Regions from separate parts of the Homo sapiens genome. Here region 1 is linked to region 2. Evidence: fine-mapped expression QTL. Tissue or cell type: whole blood. Region 2 holds a variant in brackets; the other region holds the start of a gene. All regions are shown on one strand. Distances are from middle to middle.

Region 1 (8,214 bases), 92 kb after region 2:
AAGGGCTTTCTGCCCACTGAAATCCTCTCCAGGCAGACCTGTGCTCTGGCTGTCTTTGCACATTTGCTGTGTATGTGTGACAAGGCCATTGGCGGTACTCTGGACTAGCTCCGGATGTTGCACCCAAGGACCCTGGAAGTCAGGGTACGACCAGGTTGATGAGCAATCATCCTATTGTTTAAAGACCCTAAACTGAAAGCCTTCATAATATGCAGGGTTGTTTCCTGGACTGGACACTCCTCTACCCCTACAATTACAGTCTGCATTCATGAACTACCCCATAGAGCCTTCATGATCCATAAACATTTAAAAGTTTTCCTTTTAGAGAGAATGAAAAAAATGTGAGAGTCACTGGTACAGGAAGGACCAAACAATTGGGTCTCTGTGGTTTTGGGGGCCTAGGTCATCCAGGCCTCTATTCAATTGGCAAAGAATCTGGCGGGATGAATCAGTCTAGCAGCTGACAAAACGATGAGGAAGGGCCGCCCAAGCTGATGGCAATTCAAAAAGGCTTTCAAACAGCTCCTTAACATGTGTCTTATGAGCTTTATTTAAATTTGATGGAAAGGCCACCAAATAGTTCTTTCAAGCTTCAAAATCTCCCTTCTGATCTGCCAATCTTTACGGAAGAAAAGGGAAGCTATGAGGAATAAGTGTTATCTTCATCACTGAGAGTGCTACACAGCTATGCGTCGCACACAAATTCTCCAGTATATAAGCTTGCCTATTCCCATGTTGTCCCTGCCTAGAACAATGGCAAAATGCAGCCTAGGGCAAGTTGAGGGTATTGCTGAATTCTCAGCTGGGTAAGCACAGCATGGAGCTATCAATTTAAAGCAAAACCAAATCAGCTTTTTGCTGATGTCATTTTACCAATAATTCCAGCTCCATCATGCAGTCTATTACCAGAGTAACTTGACTTCCCTAGGCAACCTACGAAGAAGTTGCTAAGCAATAAAAATACTTATTAGGGAGAGGAGAAAGTCACAATCAGCACAAAGTTTAGGTAGCTAGATAACTGAAAGCTGGCGCTGCCACTTCAGGGTGACAGTGCCAGATACTGGAACAGAGAAACCACATAAAAAGGACTTCCATCCTAGAGTCCCTTCTCCACACAGCAGCCCAGGGAGCCTTTTACAAAAGAAGCTGAATCACAATCCCTCTGTTCAAAGCTCTCTGTTGTGGGCTGAATTATGTCTCTCAAAATGATATGTTAAAGTCCCAACTCCTAGTACCTATGAATGTGACCTTATCTAGAAATAGTATCTCTGAAGATGTTACCAAGTTAAGATGAGGTCAAACTGGATTAGGGTGGGCCCTAACTTCAACGACTGGTGTCCTCACAGGAAGGGCACGGTAAGACAGATACATAGGGAGAAGATGGCCATGTGTTGAGACAGAGACTGGAGTTCTGCTGCCACAAGCCAAAGAACACAAAGGATTGCAGACACCCAGCAGAGGCTAGAAGAGGCAAGGACAGACTTCCTGGAGCCTTCAGAAGAGCAAGGCCCTGCCAACACCTTGACTTGAGACTTCTGGTTCTGATTTCAATTATCCAGGACTGTGAGAGAATAATTTCTGTTATTGTAAGCCGCTAAGTTACTCTGTTATGGCAGCCCTTGGAAATGCATATGCCCTCCAGTGGCTTTCCACCTTACTGAAAACCAAATCCTCACTGCAGCAGCATCTGGACCTCCTCTGACCACGCTGACTTCAGCTCCTCCTGCTCTCTGAGTAGTCAGTCCACACTGACCTCCTGGCTGGTCCTCAAACTGTACCATGAACCCTCCACCTTACGGCCTCCCTGCAGCAGGCTGGTGCTGTCAGACCTTTGCAGATGCCACTCCTTCTGCTGGAAGGGTTCCCACCTCAGGAACCTCCAAGGCCTGCTCCCTCAATCTGCCTTCAGGTCTCTGTTCAAGTCACCTAATCATGAATGCCCCCACTAACTCCCCTTCAGCCTTCCCTATCCCCACTCCATATTCCCTATTCTCTTCCCCTGCTTTATTTTTCTCCACAGTGCTTCACACAAGCTGACATAGATATTTTGCTTAACCCTTCACAGGTTCTCCCTCCACAATGTTAGCTCGAGAGAGCAGGACTTCACTGCTGAATCACAGTGCACTCTATTTAGTAAATAAGCATATGAATTCTGTTGGGATAGGTGAAATTTTATTCTGAACTGGCTGTGTGACAAAAAAGGTTTCTACTAATTAAGTGAGACAACGGAAGCTCCTGCAGATGAAGGGCTGGGCTCTGAGGGGCTGGGAGGGAATCCATGTGCCAGGTTTTCCTAAGTAGACTGAAGGGCTCTCACCACATCCCTGCATGGAAGTGGGCGAGGTGAGTGATTCCGAAAAAGCCTCTTAAGAACCTCCCTATCAAAAATTAAGTCAAGTCTTACCTGTAATTTTTGTCTCCAGCCACACCCCAGTAGAAAGCAACTTAGCCTGAGGAATTTGTGAAGTCAAATATAAACATGATCTTCCTACTTCATTACTATACATATTTTTTTAGGGGCTGAGGAGAAAGGCCTAGTAGGAATGTTTGATAATGATAATCTTATACTGCAAATGCACAAACTCTACTCAGAGGAGAAAGCCTCGATCACCACACCCCTAAAAATACATAAGCCAGGAGGTTTCAAACAGCTCTTTCTTAGTCAAACTCTCTTAAATGGTCCTAAATTTACACTTTTTTCCTTCCTTCATTGATATTTTTCAAAACTTTTGAAACAAAACAGGCAGGAAAAATGCAAGTTTTTCTTTACCTTGGCTTTTGGCCCCAGGTCCTGCCAATCCGAGTGATGGATCACAGGACTCCTTGAAAGGTGATCGGATCGGGGTTTCAGCTTCAGGAGTCTCAAAATTACCTTCAGAATCCGAGCTGCCAAGGAGGAAAAATGAGGAATTACCACTTTCAACGGTATTTCCGACACCCTTTGAAATCTACATATTCACAGAGGCTAAAAGTCCAGCACTTTTGTCTAACTTCACAACCAACCGGTCCTCAGCAGGGTCTGACCTGCGGGAGGCAACTGCGGTCTCTGAGCAGTGCCCTCCTTGGGTTTCTCAGGCTGGCATCCTGTCTCTCTGAAAGCTCCTCCATTCCCTGGAGCTTTTCTCCAGCACCATTTATTTTCGAGGTCATCCTTCCCTCAGACACCTGAAAAATGCGCTTTTCCAACAGACTCCTTTTGTCACAAGAGCCCTTTCCCAGAGGCTTTAACAATTAATACTGGTCCCACCCCCGAGTTAGGCCGATGCTAGGCATTCCTCTTTGCTCGGTAGGCCTCTACCTGCTGGAACTCCCTGGGCCCGAGGCTAAGAATGGTGTCACCTGCCTTCCGCAATCACGCGGATGACAGCCCGGCAGAGACCACCATTTCCCAGCAGCTGCCAGGGGCCTGTCATCACGCGACCTTCTTCACCGCGGCTGCGTTTTGGGTACACGGTAGGGCCCCGGGAAGGGCCGGGGAGCGACTTCTTCCCCACGGGGGGGCCCTAAGTTGCACTGGGTTAGATCAGTGACGTTGCTCCAGTGTGGAGGGGCGGGGGCTGGGGGTCGAAGCTTAGAGAAAGTGACCGAGGCCAGCGGGGATGCGGAGAGACTGCAGATTCTGGGTTGGGTGCGGAACTCTCCTAGCGAAACGGGGGCCAGAAACCCCACGGGAGGACAGAAGATCCTGAACTTTCGGACGCACACGGGGACCCGGCTCCGGGCAGGGACGCGGCACGGCCGTGAGGACGGTTTCGCGGGTGGCGACCACACACACGCACACAGAGGGAGTCGCAGATGGATGGAGGCAAGCGCGTCTGCATCTCAGCGGGGACGCCGTGTACTTGCCTGAAACTCAAGGATTTGGTCTCGGCTTGCGAATCCTCCTCCTCGGGGTCGCCCTCGGGCCCGCCAGCCTCGTCCTCGCCGGCGGCCCCGCCGCGTACCGCAGACCACGTCCATTTCGCCCACTGCACGGGGGACAGGATCTGCCACGGGCTGAACGCCATGAGCGCGGCTCCTCCGGCTCCAGCTCCTAGGGGCAGGGGAATGGGTGGGGAGAGCCTTTTTCCCTTTCAAAATGGAGGGAACCGGTGACAGGCGCCAGCAAGCGTTTCCAGCAGAGGCGCGGATGTGGTTAAACGAGTGCCGTCGGGGGCCCTGGTGGAGCGCTTCCTCCCGCCGGCAGCCGGCGCTGCGTCCTCCTCGGCCTCCTCCCCTCACGGTGCGGCCGCAGCGGGCCCCGCGCCGGGCTCCACTAGCCGGGAAGACGCCCGTCCTGTGGCCTCCTCAGGCCCCCGGCCCGCGGCGCCCGGCTGCTAGACCTCTGCTGCTCCCGCTCCCGGCTCGCGGACTCCCGCCTCCCGGCCGGCGGGGCGCGCATCAGCTGCCGCCGGAGCCGCGCCCCAGAAGCCGCCCCCTCGGACCGTACTACTCGCGCGCGCGCGCGGGGGCGGCGGCGGCGCCGGGGCTTTGAAGACGGCCGCGCGCCCGCCGGATCCCCCTACCGCGGCGTCACGCTGGTCGCGGCCCGACTGAGGGCCGGGGCTTGCCGGCTGCGCGGGGAGATTCGGTCATACCCCACAGGTCCGCCGGCGTCCGGGGCAGAGGAGGACCGTTTTCTGAGCCGGGGCACGCTGTCCTCTTCCTCTTTCCTTATTCCTTTTTAAAATTTTTTTAAACATTTTCATCTTGCCACTGTGACTTCACGGCGATGGTGATATTGGACTGCACACAAGCCCCTTGTTACCAAAAAAAAAAAAATACAAACCTTCGCGGCCGCTGTGGACTGTTGTTTTCCCCTCCCTAACCCTGGCAGCGTGGGGGATTTCAGCCTGTTCATCTCCATCCCTGGCATTCCCGGGATTTGAAAATCCCTTGGCAAAGCCACAAGAGTGACCGAGGACTGGAATTTAAGATGCCCTCCCCCTCCCCAAACCGCACTCGGGGAGGCTTCCCAAGTGCCCAGGTCTTGTCTTAGGTAAAGGGTACTAAATTCCCTGTGAGATTACAGCCTGATGGGTTTCCCATTCTCCATATTTATTTATTTAAAATACAGACAGGCGTCTCGATATGTTGCCCAGGCTGGTCTTGAACTCTTGGCCACAAGCGATCCTCCCGCCTCTGCCTCCCAAAATGCTAGGATTCCAGGCCTGACACCGCGCCTGACCCCATTCTCCTTTTTGAGATTTTCTTTTCGTAACTTCTAAGTCTTTGATTTCTGACTTATTTCGCTGCTTCAGTAACAAGCCAAGAGGCCTGGCGACATCTTTAGGTTTGAAGGCAATGGGAAATAGCTGATGTTCTCCATTTCCCATGGAGGGATTTCATGTAGGGATTGTTCCTCTCAAAACCACCAAAGCACCTTCTTCCAAGTGAATCGATTGCCTCAAACACCAGGCTTAATGATCTCCTTGCCTGGATAAGGTGTTCCAGGTGGTACTGTAATTTCCGAGTTGTGGTGCATCCATGAGGTGCCTGCAGGTTCCCACAGAGACAGCAGCTCCAAAATGTGCACGTTGAAACTTGCAAGAGACTAACCGTTGCCTCTGAAAGCAGTTGGCATGTATATTCATCGTGACTGTTTTACACATTTGATAACAAAAACAGGAGCAAAATACAAGATAAGGCTTGGCAGGGTAGTTTTACCAAAACCGAAGGGCAGGAGTTAACCTGAAGTCTAGAGAAAAGAAAGGGGTGGGGTGTCAGGATGCTTTCGAATTCATCCTGGCTTCTTCCCAGAAATAAATTGTCATGAGTGTTCTAGCGACTATAAAGAAGTGAACTAGGCAGGAGGTCCATGTGAAATATATCACACCACTTATCCAACTGTTGTAGTTTTAGGTTTATGCTTACCCAGTAAAACTTCAGGTTCTACAGTCCCCCAGGCTCCTGGATTTGACACAGGGTTCTGTTTCTGGGAAATAATATTACCCCAGCAAATCAGTAACTAGCATACACTAGGACCTGTTCTTCCTCCTGAATAGTTCTCTTATCTTTTCATTCCTTTGCATCCCTGTGGTGACTGACATAGTTCCCGCACTCCCCATCTTTCATGATCTACTGTAAATAACTCCCACCTGGTTTTACCTCTGAAGGTTTTCTTGCCTGAGGTCACCCCTGCCTGGCTGATCAGTGACTCGTGCTCTAATCTTTCGGTTCCCATTCCCCTCTATGCCCATCCTTTTGTATTCCTAGCCACAGTGAGTAGAGAACTCGTTGTCAATCTTTAATATGCCCAAGAATCATCCGCCAGCCTTCTTAAAAAAATCCAAATTGCCAGCAGAGTCTGGAAATCTGTGTGTTCACTAAGTGTCCTGGGGAACTGTTATCACAGGGTAAATTTGGGAAACAGTGCCTAGCTTGAACCAACTGCTTACTGCTTCGGGAACAGTCTCCCTTTGCCTGCAGAGGGAGCTTTGCGAATTCCTGGAACACACCTCCTCCCCCACCCCAGCCCACCCCAAGTTCCCAGGCTTCAGCTGCTCGAACGTCCTTCAGCACTTAGCTCAAGTGTCTACAGGGGGAAGCAGGCTCATTGTCCTTCCTTTCTATCATTTCTATACCCCGAACATCCATAAAGAACACTTCCTGTGGCCTTAGATCTGAAAGTGAAAGACAGCATTCTTAATAGTTACACAGGGACTATAGGCATAAACCAGGACTGTCTCCAGAAGACCAGGATGTAAGGCCATTCTACACTTAGCACACCATATATAACATATTTATTTACATATCTGTCCCACAAGCTTCTAAAGGGACTTTACCCCCCTTTGGGACTTCCTCCAGAAATTAGGACAGAACCACACACTCAGTAGGTGTTCAATATATATGTAAGAAAAAACAAACATTCTAGTTTACAAATAGTCCTTGTGAGTTTGGCTAAGGTGACATAAATTCCTAAAGCCTGACTCCCCCTGGGGAAATCTAGTTTCTGGGCCAGAAAATAACAGAACCCAGGACCAAGTGATGGCCCCAGTAAGATTAAGCCTCACCTATGCAGCAATTTACTTTTTTTTTTTTTTGAGATGGAGTCTCACTCTGTCACCCAGGCTGGAGCACGGTGGTGCAGTCTCAGCTGACTGCAACCTCCGCCTCCTGGGTTCAAGCGATTCTCCCTGCCTCAGCCTCCCAAGTAGCTGGGATTACAGGTTCCTGCCACCATGCCCAGCTAATTTTTTTATTTTTTAGTAGAGACGGGGTTTCATCATGTTGGCCAGGCTGGTCTTGAACTCCTGACCTCAGGTGATCCACCCACTTCCAAAGTTCTGGGATTATAGGTGTGAGCCACCGCACCCGGCCTGCAGCAACTTCTTGAGACTGGACTAGCAAATAAATGCCTAAGGTTTCTGAAAATCACTCCTCTGCAAGTTCTTGAACTTAGTGTAAGCAGTAATGAATATGAGTCCATTAGCTGGACCACTCCTCTCAGTCTGCTGCTCCTAGTCCTGGCTTCGTTCTTACCTGGTACAGGTTGCAAAGTCACAACTAGGAACACTCTAGCCCTGTCAGTGAAGACGTGCCATTGCCAACAGGAGGCTGTGGCCACCCTATCTGCTTTTCTGCCCTACCTCAGTCTAACCAGGCAAGGGCATGATGATGTCTAATCAAGACAACATTGCCAATAACAGCATCTGACCGCATTCAAATATGTTAACATGACAGTCTTAACCTTGCAAGATCAGATATTTACCTAATTATCCTTTACCTGTAGACTACAAACATCTATAGAATTACAATCTTCCCTCCACTACCCAAACACCGAAATCAGGACTGTGTACAATGCATTTATACAGAAAATTATAAAGAGAAGCTCCTTTCTAATTTTTTAAAAGAGAGGTGTCAGGGTATGTTCATAGCTAATACTCTTTCAGGCTGGGTGCGGTGGCTCATGCCTGCAATCCCACACTTTGGGAGGCCAAGGCAGGCAGATCACTTAAGGTCAGGAGTATGAGACCAGCCTGGCCAACATGGTGAAACTCCATCTCTACTAAGAATATAAAAATAGCCAGGTGTGGTGGCAGGCGCCTGTAATTCCAGCTACTCGGGAGGCTGAGGCAGGAGAATCACTTGAACCGGGGAGGCAGAGATTGCGGTGAGCCGAGATCATGCCACTGTACTTCAGCCTGGGCAACAGAGTGAGACTCCATCTCAAAAAAAAAAAAAAGAAAATACTCTTTCAGAGTTCCAGGAAGATTAACAAAGATCCAAACTGCA
Region 2 (8,214 bases):
CCTGGGAGTTTGCAGTCCTCCCTCCTGGGCTGCCCAAAGCTGTGAGATTACAGGTGGCAGCCACCTTGCCTGGCTGTTGAAATGCATCTTTATTAAAAGACAAAATATCACCAGATCTGTAGATGTAACCACCCCACCCTCAGTCCCCTCCGACACCCACCTCCGACCCATTTCCACCCCATCTCAGCCCTTCCTTAGCTAGCATCTGTAGACTCTGGCAAATGTTTGTTATTGACAAGAAAAAGGAAAGGGAAAAAAAATGAGAACAAGAAAAAGGACCGCACACCTAAGAGTTTTCTATGGTTTGGGGCAGTTTTGTTTTTCTTTTTTCTCTTTTTTTTTTTTTTTTTTTTTTTGCGATGGAGTCTCTCTGTGTTGCCCAGGCTGGAGTGCAGTGGTGTGATCTCGGCTCACTGCAAGCTCCGACTCCCAAGTTCACGCCATTCTCCTGCCTCAGCCTCCCGAGTAGCTGGGACTACAGGCGCCCGCCACCACGCCCGGCTAATGTTTTGTATTTTTAGTAGAGACGGAGTTTCACCGTGTTAGTCAGGATGGTCTCGATCTCCTGACCTCGTGATCTGCCCGCCTTGGCCTCCCAAAGTGCTGGGATTACAGGTGTGAGCTACTGCACCCGGCCTCGTTTTTCTTTCTTTTGTTTTTAAGGTTTTAAAGGTTTCTCTTTGAAAAGATGGTATCACAGAACATACAGAACTGCTCTGAAAATGCAACTTAATTTGCAAAATGCTGCATCAAAATATTACAGTCATGGAATCTAATGAATTGAGCATGCGTTCATGAAACTTAAAAAATACTGAGCAATGCATTGAAAAAAGCATGGTAAAAAAAAGACAACTCAAGTTAAATAAAAATTGCAAAGGTCCTGAACCAATTAATGGTTGGTGACAATGTCATTCAAAAATGCCTTTAGGTTTCAATGAAATCCACCATTTATTTCTGCATGCCTAGTTCTTGAAAAAACTGTTTGAAGTTGTGAGGTAGGTAATGGCCAGGAATTATCATGCTGAGTTAATTTTACACCTCAAAGGTACAAGTTTGCCATACTTAAAGCTCTTGTTAGGCCAGGCGCAGCGGCTCACTTCTAACACTTTTGGGAGGCCAAGGCAGGTGGATTACCTGAGGTCAGGAGTTCAAGACCAGCCTGGCCAACATGATGAAACTCCGTCTCTAATAAAAATACAAAAGTTAGCCGGGCATGGTGGCAGGCGCCTGTAATCCCAGCTACCTGGGAGGCTGAGGCAGGAGAATCACTTGAACCTGGGGGGCAGACATTGCAGTGAGCCGAGATCACGCCATTGCACTCCAGCCTGGGCAACAAGAGCGAAACTCCATTTCAAAACAAAACAAAACAAAACAAAAGTTCTTGTTGATTCTGGCATGAGTTGCTTTTCAGTAAAAGACAATAGTCAACTAATAAGAATGGCATGAGATAGGATATGTAACAATTTCACCGTTCATATACTCACTTTCTGTTTCCTGGTTATATTTTGATTTTTAATAAAGATACATTTCAACAGCTAGGCAAGGTAGCTCACACTTGTAATCCCACTGTTTTGTGCAGCCCCGAAGGGAGGATTGCTTGAACCCAGGAGTTTGAGGCCAACCTGGGCAATGGATCAAAACTCCTACCCTACAAAAAATTTTCAAAATTAATCAGGCATGATTCTACACCTGTAGTCCCATCTTCTTGGGAGAGTGAGGTGGAGGATCACTTGAGCCCAGGAGTTTGAGGCCAACCTGGGCAATGGATCAAAACTCCCACCCTACAAAAAATTTTCAAAATTAATCAGGCATGATTCTACACCTGTAGTCCCATCTTCTTGGGAGAGTGAGGTGGAGGATCACTTGAGCCCAGGAATTGGAGGCTGCAGTGAGCTATGATTGCACCACTGCATTCCAGCCTGGGTGACAGAGTGAGACCCTGTCTCTGAAAAAAAAAAAAAAAAAACATTTCCAAGAGCTCCATGGGAAGCAGAATTTTTGGTGCCCTGGGACAGATTCAGTTCAAGCTTTTCATGACTTTGTTTCCCCTTGCCCTTTTCTTGCTGAAGGCAGTGCTCACAAAATTGTTTTTTTTATTTGTTTTTTTGTTTGTTTATTTGCTTGCTTGTTTTTTGAGATGGAGTCTCACTCTGTTGCCCAGGCTGGAGTGCAGTGATCTCAGCTCACTGCAACCTCCGCCTCCCAGGTTCAAGTGATTCCCCTGTCTCAGCCTCCCAAGTAGCTGGGATTACAGGCACCCGCCACCACACCCAGCTAATTTTCATATTTTTAATAGAGACAGGGTTTCGCCATGTTGGCCAGGCTGGTCTCAAACTCCTGACCTCAAGTGATCCGCCCTCCTGGGCCTCCAAAAGTGCTGAGATTATAGGTGTGAGCCACCGCACCCAGTCCATTTACTTTTTTTTTTTTTTAATTTAAGCAGGCTGCTGTGGAACCAATTGTTATATTCTTTGGAAAAGCAGTTTTCAAGAGCCTTAAAATATTTTTATCATTTGGCCCAGTGATTCCCACTCTGGAAATCTATCCAAAGAAAATGATCTAAAATGCAAGTGAGAAAAAATTGAACATAATGTGTTATGGGACTGAATTATGCCTCCCCCCAACCCCTAATTCACATGTTAAAACCCTAACGCCAGTAACTCAAAATTGACTGTATTTGGAAGTAGGGCCTTTATAGAGGTGATTAAGTTAAACAGAGTCTATTAAAATAGGCCCTAATTCAATCTGAGTAGTGTTTATATAAGAAGAGGAAATTTGAACACATAAAGAAACACCAGGGATGCCCAAATACGGAAGAAAGACAGTGCAGACACAGGAAGGAGGTGACCAATGGCAAGCCCAGGAAGGGGGCCTGGGCAGAAACCAACCCTGCTCCCACCCTGATCTTGGACTTCCAGCCTCCAGACAGTGAGAAAAAAAATTTCTGTTGCCTAAGCCACCTAGGTCTGTTGTACTTTGTTATGGTGGCCCTAGCAAACTAATAGACAATGATTTTTAAAATAATTATATATATTTAAAATAGAGAACAATTAGAAATGGCCTAAATGTTCAACAATTGGGAAAAGAGTATCATACCATCATCAAAATGCTGAGGGTGTATGGAAAAAACAGCTTACAAGATAATGTTTAGCCAAAAAAAGCAAGATGCCAGGCACAGTGCCTCTCACTTGCAGTCCTATCTACTTGGGAGGCTGAAAGAAGAGGATCACTTGAGACCAGGAGTTCGAGACCAGCCTGGACAACATAGCAAGACCCCAACTCTAAAATAAAAAACATCATATGTACCCCATAAA[T/C]ATGTACAACTATGATGTACCATAATTAATAAAAGTAAAATAATTTTGAAAAATTATATGTTGTCATATGGGTTATTTTTTAAAAAGCAAGATACATTTTATTTTATTATTATTTTTTAAGACAGTCTTGCTCTGTTTCCTAGGCTGGAGTGCAGTGGTGCGATCTCGGCTCACTGCAAGCTCCGCCTCCCAGGTTCAAGCCATTCTCCTGCCTCGGCCTCTCTAGTAGCTGGGACTACAGGCTCCCGCAACCACGCCCGGCTAATTTTTGTATTTTTAGTAGAGGTGGGGTTTCACCATACTGGCCAGGCTGGTCTCGAATTCCTGAACTCAAATGATCCACTCGGCCTCCCAAAGTGCTGAGATTACAGGTGTGAGCCACTGTGCCTGGCCACAAGATACATTTCATACACACACACACATAAATGCATATATATATGTATATATATATACCCATATATATATATGTATATATACCCATATATATATGTATATATATATACCCATATATATATGTATATATATATACCCATATATATATACCCATATATATGTATATATACCCATATATATGTATATATATATACCCATATATATGTATATATATATACCCATATATATATGTATATATATATACCCATATATATATATGTATATATATATACCCATATATATGTATATATATACCCATATATATATGTGTATATATATACCCATATATATGTATATATATGTGTATATATATACCCATATATATGTATATATATGGGTATATATATATGCCCATATATATATATGTATATATATATGCCCATATATATATATATATGATTTTGACTATGCTTTATAAAGCCTGTGGTCAGGGGGAAAAAACTAGGAGGAAAAAAAGCTCATTGTAGTATTGTTTTAGAAGATGATGATGATGATTTATATTCTCCTTTCTCCATTGAAGAGTTAAACCTATTGTTATTTGAAATACACCTTATTTAAATAAGCAGGTAAAATAGGGCACTCTGTAAGTGGACCTGTATGAATGTACTCTTACAGAGAGTAGACTTCTGAAAGGAGACAGTATTGTTTGGACTGAGGATGTGGTTCTTGGTCTCAACTGCACCAACTGTATTGATAAAATTCCTGCCCACATATCCCCATGTTCAGTGCAGCAGGTTAAAAGCTGTTGTGCACGTCATGCCTTTTTTTTTTTTTTTTTTTTTTTTTGAGACAGGGTCTTACTCTTTTTTTTGTTCGTTTGTTTGTTTGTTTTATTTTGTTTTGTTTTTTGAGACAGGGTCTTACTCCGTTGCCCAGGCTGGAGTGCAGTGGTGCAATCACAGCTCACTGCAGCCTCCACCTCCTGGGCTCATGCAATCCTCCCACCTAGCCTCCAGAGTAGCTGGGACCACAGGTGCATACCACCATGCCCAGCTAATTTTTTAAAATATTTGTAGGGATGAGGTCTCACTATGTTGCCCAGGCTGGTCTCAAACTTCTGGGATTAAGTAATCTTCTTGCCTCAGCCTCCCAAAGTGCTGGAATTACAGGTATGACTCACTGCACTTGGCCTGGATATCATTCTTTAATTGGTCCCAGGGTGACTGAAACCCTTTGTCTTTTTCTCAGAGAGGACAGGCAAGGGCAGATGTCTCCCACTTGGCCTTCTACATGCTCTTCTCTGAGCTCTGCCATGATGGGTTCTCATCTAGTCAGCCTGGGAGCAAACCACGCCTAGGAGGCACGGGGAAGGCTGGCAGGTCCCTGCAGCTCAATGTCCCTTCTATCCCTCAGAGAGATGCATTCTCAGAAAGAAACTGCACTCATGTCTCCTCTCCTTTGCACCCATACCCTTTCCATTTTCCTCTGATGGATGTCTTTCCTTTGACTGCAATCATCATGCATGTGGACAGCTCCTGAGTATGTGTCTGCAGCTTGAGCCTTTCTACTTCTCTCTACATTCCTGTATCGAATTGCACGCTGGTCTTCTACCTCCAAATGCCCCAAACCTAATATACCTAAAACTCGCCTTGTTGACTTTGTCTCATAAACTTCTCTCTCTTGCATTCCCTGTCTCTATAATAAAGACATAACTTCCACCCCGTCACTCAAGCTAGGAACCGAAATGTCATTGTCACTCCTTCTCTCTCACCACCCACAGCCAATTAGTCATCGAGCCGTATCGATTCCCACTGCCTACACCCCTTCCATCTCCTCCTCCCTGCTCCTGGCTCCTCCTCGCCTTAGTTCAGGCTCATGTTAGTCCTTGTTTGGGTCATTCACTCATTCAGGCTCTGGGGGCATGTTGGTGAATAAGATAGGAATGAGTCCTTCCCTCATGAAGCTTGTGGGTACGAAAGACAATAATCAAACAAAAGAATCCCATGTTTATGATGTATCAGAGCAATATGAAGAATATAACTGTTTGCTTGAAGAAGGGGAAATTAAAATTGAGACTGAGAAGAAAGTTTCGCAGAGAGAGCTCAAAGACAAACACTCCAAGAAAGAGAAACAGCAAACAAATGCAAGGCCCTGAGGTGAAAAGATCTCGCCATATTGGAGGGGCTTCGGTTGCCATATTGCTCTGAGAGGAAAAGTGGAACCAGGTGGCATGGAGAAGTGGGCAGGGCCCTTCTGGGCAACAATGAGAAGTCTGGATCTTTTATTATTGTTTATTTATTTTGAGACAGAGTGTCGCTCCATCACCAGGCTGGAGTGTAGTGGTGCCATCTCAGCTCCCTGCAACCTCCACCTCCCGGGTTCAAGTGATTCTCCTGCCTCAGCCTCCTGAGTAGCTGGGACTATAGGCATGCACCACCACACCCAGCTGTTTTTTGTTTTTTTGGTTTTTTTTTAGTAGAGATGGGGTTTCACCATGTTGCCCAGGCTGGTCTTGAACTCCTGGCCTCAGGTGATCCACCCACCTCGGCCTCCCAAAGGGCTGGGATTCCAGGCATGAACCACCATGCCCAGCCAGAAGTCTGGATTTTACCTTAAGCTGTTGAAAAGTGTTAATCAGGAGGGTGACCTGTCTCCCTGGGCCTTCCATATCTCTTCAATCCTTCTTCAACATGGCTTCAAGGTTGGTCTTTCCAGGACAAGTATCTGATCATGTCTCTCTGGGTTTTAAAAATTTCCAGTGGCTCCCATTTGCCTGCTGTTAACACCTAAACTGCTTAGCTTGGCCTACAAGGCCCTGAATGCTCTCGCCCCATGTTTCGCTCCATCCTTATTTTTCCTTGTGTCTCTTTATCTCCTTTGCCTGGCCATGCCAAGCAACTTCCAGGTTGCCTCGTGGGTTCTGCCATGTCTTTTCTCAGGATGCATCTCTCTGGGTACAGCATTCCCTACGCCATCCATCATCAAACAAAAATCTACACATCCTGCAAGCCGAAGGTCAAATGTCACCTCATCTTTCCTGATCACTACCCCCCAGATAGAATGGACTGTTCCCACAGGGCATGGTGGCTCATGTCTGTAATCCCAGTTACTTGGCAGGCTGAGGGAGGAGGATAGCTTGAGCCCAGGAGTTGGAGGCCAGCATGGGCAACATAGTGAGACCCCCATCACTAAAGAAAAAAAAATTGTTTTAAATGGATGATTCCCTCCTCTGCATCCTCAATGTTTGACAGCACGTGTCTGTTTACATGCATCTCTCCCTGTTCACACATGACCCTTTGTTACTCATATTTATTCCCTACCATTGAGCACAGAGCTTGGAGTACTTTATTGTGTAAAAAGAACGGATTTCCCCTGTTTTGCATATTTAGATTACACATGATAGTTTTGCCAAAGGAGCAGGAAACCAGATGCTTGAAGCTCAGTGAGAATTTCTATTTTTTTTTTTTTTATATGGAGTCTTACTCTGTCACCCGGGCTGCAGTGCAGTGGCATGATCTCAGCTCACTGCAACCTCCGCCTCCTAGGTTCAAGCAATTCTCCTGCCTCAGCCTCCTGAGTAGCTGGGATTACAGGCACCCGCCACTACGCCCTGCTAATTTTTTTTTTTTTTTGTATCTTTAGTAGAGATGGGATTTCACCATGTTGGCCATCCTGACCTAGTGATTCACCTGCTTCAGCCTCCCAAAGTGCTAGGATTACAAACATGAGGATTTTAATGAACATGTCAGTTGAGACTTATAGCAGATCTGTCTTTGAGCTGCCAGTATTCCCAACATAAGCTACATCCACACGTTGAGCCCCATTGGCAAGGAGGGAACTTGGAAGGAGTTTGAGCAAGTAAAAATACCTATGGGGCACAAGCTATTTTGAAGCCTATTTACTTGTTAGCCACCTCTCATCATTCTACAGTGTCCGCACCATTTCCACAGTCCTCATCCAATCACAGATGGTACCAGGGGATGCATTAGCTGCTTGAAGCAGGACTGTCAGAGACAGAATTTGTCACTTCATAATTCCTGCTAAAGCCGGACATGGTGGCTTGCACCTGTAATCCCAGCAATTTGGGAGGCTGAAGTAGGAGGAACTTGAGGCCAGGAGTTCAAGACGAGCCTGGGCAATATAGCAAGACCACATCTCTACAAAAACATTTAAAAATGGCCGGGTGCGGTGACTTACACCTGTAATCCCAGCACTTTGGGAGGCCGAGGCGGGTGGATCATGAGGTCAAGAGATTGAGACCATCCTGGCTAACATGGTGAAACCTCGTCTCTACTAAAAATACAAAAATTAGCTGGGCATGGTGGCATGCACGTGTAGTCCCAGTCACTCAGGAGGCTGAGGCAGGAGAATCACCTGAACCCGGAAGGTGGAGGTTGCAGTGAGCTGAGATCACGCCACTGCACTCCAGCCTGGCAACAGAACGAGACCCTGTCCCCGCCCCCCCGCAAAAAAATTAAAAATTAGCTGGGTGTGGTGGCGTGCCTGTAGTCCCAGCTACTCAGGGAGC

What was found. PIP is the estimated chance that this variant, and not a neighbour inherited with it, causes the effect.
Region 1: it holds the start of TACC1, and the variant in region 2 is fine-mapped to the expression of TACC1 in whole blood (INTERVAL, PIP above 0.99).

What each region holds. Positions count from the first base shown.
Region 1 is chr8:38,783,376-38,791,589 of GRCh38, reverse strand. It overlaps TACC1 (transforming acidic coiled-coil containing protein 1), which reads right to left and starts at 4,354. Exons shown (of 13, transcript NM_006283.3): 1 at 3,847-4,354; 2 at 2,771-2,886. The coding sequence starts at 4,007. RefSeq lists a silencer at 4,091-4,630 and an enhancer at 4,671-4,750.
Region 2 is chr8:38,875,394-38,883,607 of GRCh38, reverse strand. No RefSeq gene overlaps it. Among named protein-coding and RNA genes, the nearest start is that of PLEKHA2, 22 kb to the left of the region's middle. The variant T/C (reference allele first, on the strand shown) is at 3,315.